2 linked regions of the Homo sapiens genome follow. The protein of the gene in region 1 purifies or fractionates together with the protein of each later gene. This does not show direct contact. Each region holds a gene or a part of one and is shown in the gene's direction. Other genes may lie near its edges.

Region 1 (2,925 bases):
CAGATCCACAACCTGGGACGAGCTGACTTCAGGCCCAAGGCTGGGCGCCACTCCTGGGTGTGGCACGAGTGCCATGGGTGAGAGGGTAGGGAGTCAAGTAGAAGGGCAAGACCACGGGGGATGGGGCAAACCTTCTGGGGGCAGAGAAGGAAACAGAAGTTCCCTTCTCCCCACAGGCATTACCACAGCATGGACATCTTCACTCACTATGATATCCTCACCCCAAATGGCACCAAGGTGGCTGAGGGCCACAAAGCTAGTTTCTGTCTCGAAGACACTGAGTGTCAGGAGGGTGAGTTGGGGACTGAAGTGAACCACATGGTATCCATTGCACAGCCTTTCCTTACACTGACATATGCCAATCCCTCCAGATGTCTCCAAGCGGTATGAGTGTGCCAACTTTGGAGAGCAAGGCATCACTGTGGGTTGCTGGGATCTCTACCGGCATGACATTGACTGTCAGTGGATTGACATCACGGATGTGAAGCCAGGAAACTACATTCTCCAGGTACCTGGAGTCTGGGGCTTCCAGATGGGTGAGTGGGGGGAGCGTTAAAGACACCTTTGAATTCGAGGATTGTCGCTGGGTTAAGTGGCCTTTTTCTCACTCACAGGTTGTCATCAACCCAAACTTTGAAGTAGCAGAGAGTGACTTTACCAACAATGCAATGAAATGTAACTGCAAATATGATGGACATAGAATCTGGGTGCACAACTGCCACATTGGTATTTGATGGGAAGAGCAACCCAGGAAGATTAGGGGATGGGAGGGAAAGACGTTCATTCTCTTTTCCATAGCTTGTTTCTCCATCTTCCCACCTTCCTGTAGAGCTCTCAGTCCCTCCACTTCTACCCACCCTTCTCCACAGTGCATCTATCTCCCTCCCTCTGTGCAGGGCGCCTCCCAAATTGCCTGTCCACTCTGCAGGTGATGCCTTCAGTGAAGAGGCCAACAGGAGGTTTGAACGCTACCCTGGCCAGACCAGCAACCAGATTATCTAAGTGCCACTGCCCTCTGCAAACCACCACTGGCCCCTAATGGCAGGGGTCTGAGGCTGCCATTACCTCAGGAGCTTACCAAGAAACCCATGTCAGCAACCGCACTCATCAGACCATGCACTATGGATGTGGAACTGTCAAGCAGAAGTTTTCACCCTCCTTCAGAGGCCAGCTGTCAGTATCTGTAGCCAAGCATGGGAATCTTTGCTCCCAGGCCCAGCACCGAGCAGAACAGACCAGAGCCCACCACACCACAAAGAGCAGCACCTGACTAACTGCCCACAAAAGATGGCAGCAGCTCATTTTCTTTAATAGGAGGTCAGGATGGTCAGCTCCAGTATCTCCCCTAAGTTTAGGGGGATACAGCTTTACCTCTAGCCTTTTGGTGGGGGAAAAGATCCAGCCCTCCCACCTCATTTTTTACTATAATATGTTGCTAGGTATAATTTTATTTTATATAAAAAGTGTTTCTGTGATTCTTCAGAGCCCAGGAGTCAGTGCTGGTGGTTGGAGGGACCTGCCCCCACTGGTTCATTTAACCCTCTGTCTCGGTGCCCTCAGAACCTCAGCCAGAAAGGCAAGGAGGAAATCAGAGCAGGAGCCTCATACTCTTGGTGATCTATTCATTCTGTGACCTCAGGGGTCACATATAAGGTCAGTGTTTCTCGTCCCCGCCGGATCTGCACTGCCAACTGGGATTGGGTTCGAACAGCTTCATAAACATCTTCAGCATTTTGTACCATCTGCTCCCCAATGGCCAAAATCACATCACCAGGCCGCAGACCAGCCCTATAGAGAAAAATGGACAGAGAGAAAGGAAGGAGTACAAAGCCTAGTTCAAGGACACATGCACACCTTGCCCATCCCCATATCACACTGCAGCCTCTCCCTCACCGGTGTGCAGGGGAGCCCAGGATGACTTTATGGATGAGTACACCATGCTGAACATCGGGAAAGCTTGGTTCTCGAAGCTGTAGTTCAGCAAGGATGCTGAAAGTACACAGATCACCCTATTAGCCAAACCCAGGCATTCTCCCCATCCTGAGTTCCACCTCAAGTCTCTCATCAACACATTGATAAATATATGGACAGGACATGGGCTAGGTACTACAAAATACAATGGCAACTCACTTTCTGTCTTCTAGCAATAAAGTGCAACATGTACATAAAAGATGTACACCACATGAGGGCACCAAATGACAAACAGTGTTAAATCAATAGCACTAATGTCATTCTAGAATACTAAGAGAAGCTTTAAGGGGAAAGAACTTAAGTTGAGCCTAAAAGGATGGATCTGATATTAACCATATAAAACAAGAACAGCATAAATAAAAAACATGGGAGTAGGAAATCAGGTTGGCTGAGTATTCATATAGGAAGGTATTACAGCCAGGTCTAGAAAGTTGATTTACAGACAGATGGAAAATGGCCCTTAAATGCCAAGTTAATGGATTGAAGGCTTGAAATCAAAGCAGTAACAGGATGAAATCAATCTGGTGACAGGTGTACAAAGTGGAGTGGGATAAGAAAGTCAAGATGATGAAGGGAGACAGCTCTTGTGATTATTTCAAGTGTGACACAGTTCATCTTAGATAAAGACAGAAATGAGAACAAAGCTCAATAGAGGTGCCCCCCTCTGATTACACTGGTCACATTACATGTCACTGTCCCTAAAGCTCATACCTGGGACTCAGGGTCAGCATCATCACCCCAATGTAGCGCCGCTGGGACCCACTGATTCCGGAGGAGGAATCTGTGACAGAGGGACAAATGAGCCCCACCCAGCTACATCCTTCCTTCCCTGCCCTCTTCTCCCAGTAGACCACCCTCCAGGAAGTCCCACTGAATGCCCTTCCCCTATTTCCACCACATTAAAGGAACCCGTTTCCCCATAAGGCAGGCTCACTCTTCTTTTCCCCACGATGC
Region 2 (3,832 bases), about 57 Mb from region 1:
ATGTTCGGTGCAAAATATATTGTTAGTATGTATGTCGAAAATTACAGAATGTCAGCTTGCTACTTCTCTGTGGAAACTAAAAAAAAATAAAAGTAGACTTTTGGTCTCCCATGTCAGCTGGAATTGAACATCAATATAAAGCATTATCCTAACAGACATCTACTGGCTGAGAGTTTGAGTCTGTAGAGAAGGATCGTTGGTCCAAGTCAGGTCTTAACATCCATTGGTTTTTCTGCCCTTGGTGTGATTGATCAACTCCGTAATAGTGGACAATCACATTATCTACTTTAATGAGATATTTATGAATAAATTTAGTTACAAACTATGACATAGTTGAGATGCCCTGAATTATAAGCCATAAAGAGTAGGACAACTAAGAAGCAAAATTAGGACTTAATAACATTTTCTGAAAACTACAACATTTGTATATTAGAACCTATGAACAAAATATGCATTGGGTTTTATTTGGGATTCCAAGATAATTTTAGTCATAAAGTTTAGGAACAGATTATTCCATTGCTTTACTATTTCTCTGAGCATTTAAAAAATGTTATCTCGTTAAACCTTTATAACAACCTAGTGAAATAAGGCAGCAAAGTCCTCACTTTGTTGAAGAAGACATTGAGCCTAAGAGAAGCAAGTTGTCCAAGAACAAATAGCTGTTCATTATGGAGCTAGGACTTATTTAGAGTTGGGACACTTTCTATTATGTCATGCTAATGCTAGCTAATTTACTGGGTCACAGTGCCCTCGATTTATGACTATTTCACCTTACATTTTTTTCTTCTTTAATTAGAAGCTTAAAGAGAAGTTTGTAGAATGTATTCATAAGTGGATGGGATAATACTATTAAGTTCTGTTATTCTGATATTGTTTGAAATACTCTTAATAATTCTACATTTGGTAAGTTTTTTTTATATCAGTATTAAAATAGTAATTTGGTTTATTACATTTTTATACATAGAATTTGCCAGTTACTTTCTGACTACAAAGAAAAACAGATGCTAAAAATCTCTTCTGAAAACAGCAATCCAGGTAAGACTTGTGATAGTGAATTACTTTAGTCAGTTGTCCCCAACCTTTTTGACACCAGGGACCGGTTTTGTGGAAGACAATTTTTCCATGGGCTGGGGGAGGGTGGGGATGGTTTCAGGATTATTCAATCATGTTACATTTATTGTGCTACTTTATATTATTATCACATTGTAATATATAATGAAATAATTATACAACTTACCATAATGTAGAATCCGTGGAAGCTCTGAACTTATTTTTCTGCAACTGGATGGTCTCATCTGGGGGCAAAGTGAGACAGTGACAGATCATCAGGCATTAGATTCTCATACGAAGCACACAACCTAGATCCCTCAGATGGGCAGTTCACAACAGGGTTCATGCTCCAATGAGTATCTAGTGCTATCACTGATCTGACTGGAGGCAGAGTACAGGCGGTAATATGAGCCATAAGGAGTGGCTGTAAATACAGATGAAGCTTCCCTGGCTTGCCTGCTGCTCACCTCCTCCTGTGTGGTGTGGTTCATAATAGTCCATGGACTGGTATGAGTCTGTGGCCTGGGAGTTGAGGACCCCTGCTTTGCGTGGTCCTACCATAGATAAAAAAGTAAAAGTAAGGAATTTTTGATCACAAAAGAACACTGAAGCACAAGTCATGTTACATATGCTTGTCCCAATAAGGTCTCACTATTACTGACTTCATTCCTCCTCATTTGAAGTTGGAAAGAGATATATTTACTTTGTTGGAACAAGATGTGTTCTTCTACCTGCTGGTTAATTGTCATCATAACAGTAATTTTGTTAGAACAAGATGCTCTGCTACCATTTGCCAAAAGATTGTCATAATAAATATACAAATTGCCCAACTCTAGGCTCAGCAGATTATAATAAAAGCAGAAAAACGTTTCACACTAACAAAAACGCTAGTATGCTACCTGGTTGTGGACACCTAATACATTTATAGTCCAAACTGTATGAGGACACCTTTAATTTAGCCATCTATTTATCAAAGAGCTTTTGTAAGTTAGGTTTTATAAGTTGCAGGAGACAAAGATGGAATAGATGTAGTTTTGATCTTTAAGGTGCTCATAATAGAGCTGTCTCCATTTCATTTCTGTGGTTTTTCAACAGAATTTACAAAGAAAACATTTCTATTTATGTTTTCACTTGTCCACTTAACATATAACTATCAAATGTCTTTTAGATAGTAACCATTTTTCTAATGCTATAGACCACAAACAATTAAAAATACAGACAGGAGCTTTTTGTTATCATTGTCATTTTCATTATTTTACTACTTTATTCAGTGCTTACTGTGTGCTAGATGCCCACTGGAAGCTTATAATTATGATTTATTATATATTGATTATGTGCCAGACATATGTGATGAGGAATGAAAGTTTTGGGAAAAAGTAGGTATGATTTAAGGTAAGCATGCAGAGAGAGAAGAATTTTTCTAGGTAAAGAAGCAGAAGAAGAATGTTTGGCAGAAGGAACATGCAGCGAGGTCGTGTGTTTGCCAGAAGGAACATCTAATGAGATTGCCTGTTTGGGAGGAAGAGCAGCAAGTGCAAAAGACAAGATGCTTGAGTGAACATGGCAGGGTTTCTGAGCAGTTCACTTTTGCTAGTACCAAAAGTGTGTGATACGAGAGGTTGGGAATGAGGTGAATACTTAGCTAAGGCAAGTTTATGATAGACTTTTTAATACTATAGAAATGAGTAGGTCTTATCCTGTGTGCCATGGGAAATTTACCGGGTAGAATGCTTTGGACTGCAAATACTAGATGAACAGTGGCTAAAACAGTAGGAACCAGAGTTGTTTTGGTTGTTCATTGATATCCTAGGATCCCACTTTTCCCTCTTTCAGCTGTGCTGTTGACAGTGTTTTATTCACGTCTCCCTTCATGGTTGGCTAATCCGCAGCAGCTCCAAACATCTTGTTCTCACAACACAACATCGCAAGGGCTGCTTTTCTTCACATGTGTCTTTTAAACAGGGAGAAAACTTAGAAGCATGCAAAGGGCTTCCTGTAACATTTCACTGGCTGGGTCACACCACATGCTCATTCCCAAACCAGGCACTGGGAAGGTAAATACCTGATTAGCTTAGAATAATCATTTCTGTTTCTGAGGCTGAGGAGGGGGATTGGGATAATAAATATCCCAATAGACTTGGATTTCTTCTTCAAGAAAGAATAAGGAATGGCTATTGATAGGGAGCCAACAATGTGTGCTGCAGGGGCTCATTGGAGAAATTTGAGCAGGGGAGTCATAAGATTAAATCTGAGTATTAAGGCATTCTGGTTATGGTGTAAAACGGGTTAGCAAGCTTTTTCTGTAAATGGCCAGTTGGGCAATATTTTAGACTATGTGGTCTCTGTCATATCTACTTAACCCTGCTGTTGTCTGCTGTTGTAGTGTGAAAGCCACCATGATTATATGTAAGCAAACAGGCATGACTGAGCTCCTATAAAACTTTATTTACAAAACCATAATGCAGATTGGATTTGGCCTGTGGCCTATAGTTTGCTGGGATTGATGGAAGGTTCTTTACCCTGTAAAGAAACCAGGAGACAAAGGAAGTTTTCGCAGTAGTCAGTTATAGTTTCCTTGTCATACATCCTTGGAGTAGCATCAATGTATTACAAGGTTTTCACCCGTCCTTAGTGAAATACATAAAGTTAGGAATCTCAACTACTTGTTTTAATATGTTGGCCTTTTTTTTTTGGTGTTATGCTTTTTTCATTTGTTTTGCTTAATTTTTTTCATGTAAGAAATAACATTAATAGTTGGCAGGCTTTTTTTTAAATAAAAGCC

Evidence for each region.
Region 2: the proteins of LOXL3 (region 1) and POTEE purify together in Homo sapiens (affinity purification with mass spectrometry; one large-scale study listed by BioGRID and IntAct). This does not show direct contact.

What each region holds. Positions count from the first base shown.
Region 1 is NC_000002.12:74,531,683-74,534,607, reverse strand, and holds the end of LOXL3 (lysyl oxidase homolog 3 isoform 1 precursor), read left to right. Parts: coding exon 1-77; intron 78-176; coding exon 177-292; intron 293-371; coding exon 372-508; intron 509-614; coding exon 615-726; intron 727-928; coding exon 929-1,002; 3' UTR 1,003-1,622; coding exon of another isoform or gene 1,623-1,788; 3' UTR 1,789-1,893; coding exon of another isoform or gene 1,894-1,989; 3' UTR 1,990-2,350; downstream 2,351-2,925. Other genes in the region: HTRA2 (serine protease HTRA2, mitochondrial isoform 1 preproprotein), read right to left, coding at 1,623-1,788, 1,894-1,989, 2,683-2,752, 2,906-2,925. UniProt on the Homo sapiens protein: Protein-lysine 6-oxidase that mediates the oxidation of peptidyl lysine residues to allysine in target proteins.
Region 2 is NC_000002.12:131,229,872-131,233,703, forward strand, and holds part of POTEE (POTE ankyrin domain family member E), read left to right. Parts: intron 1-964; coding exon 965-1,035; intron 1,036-3,832.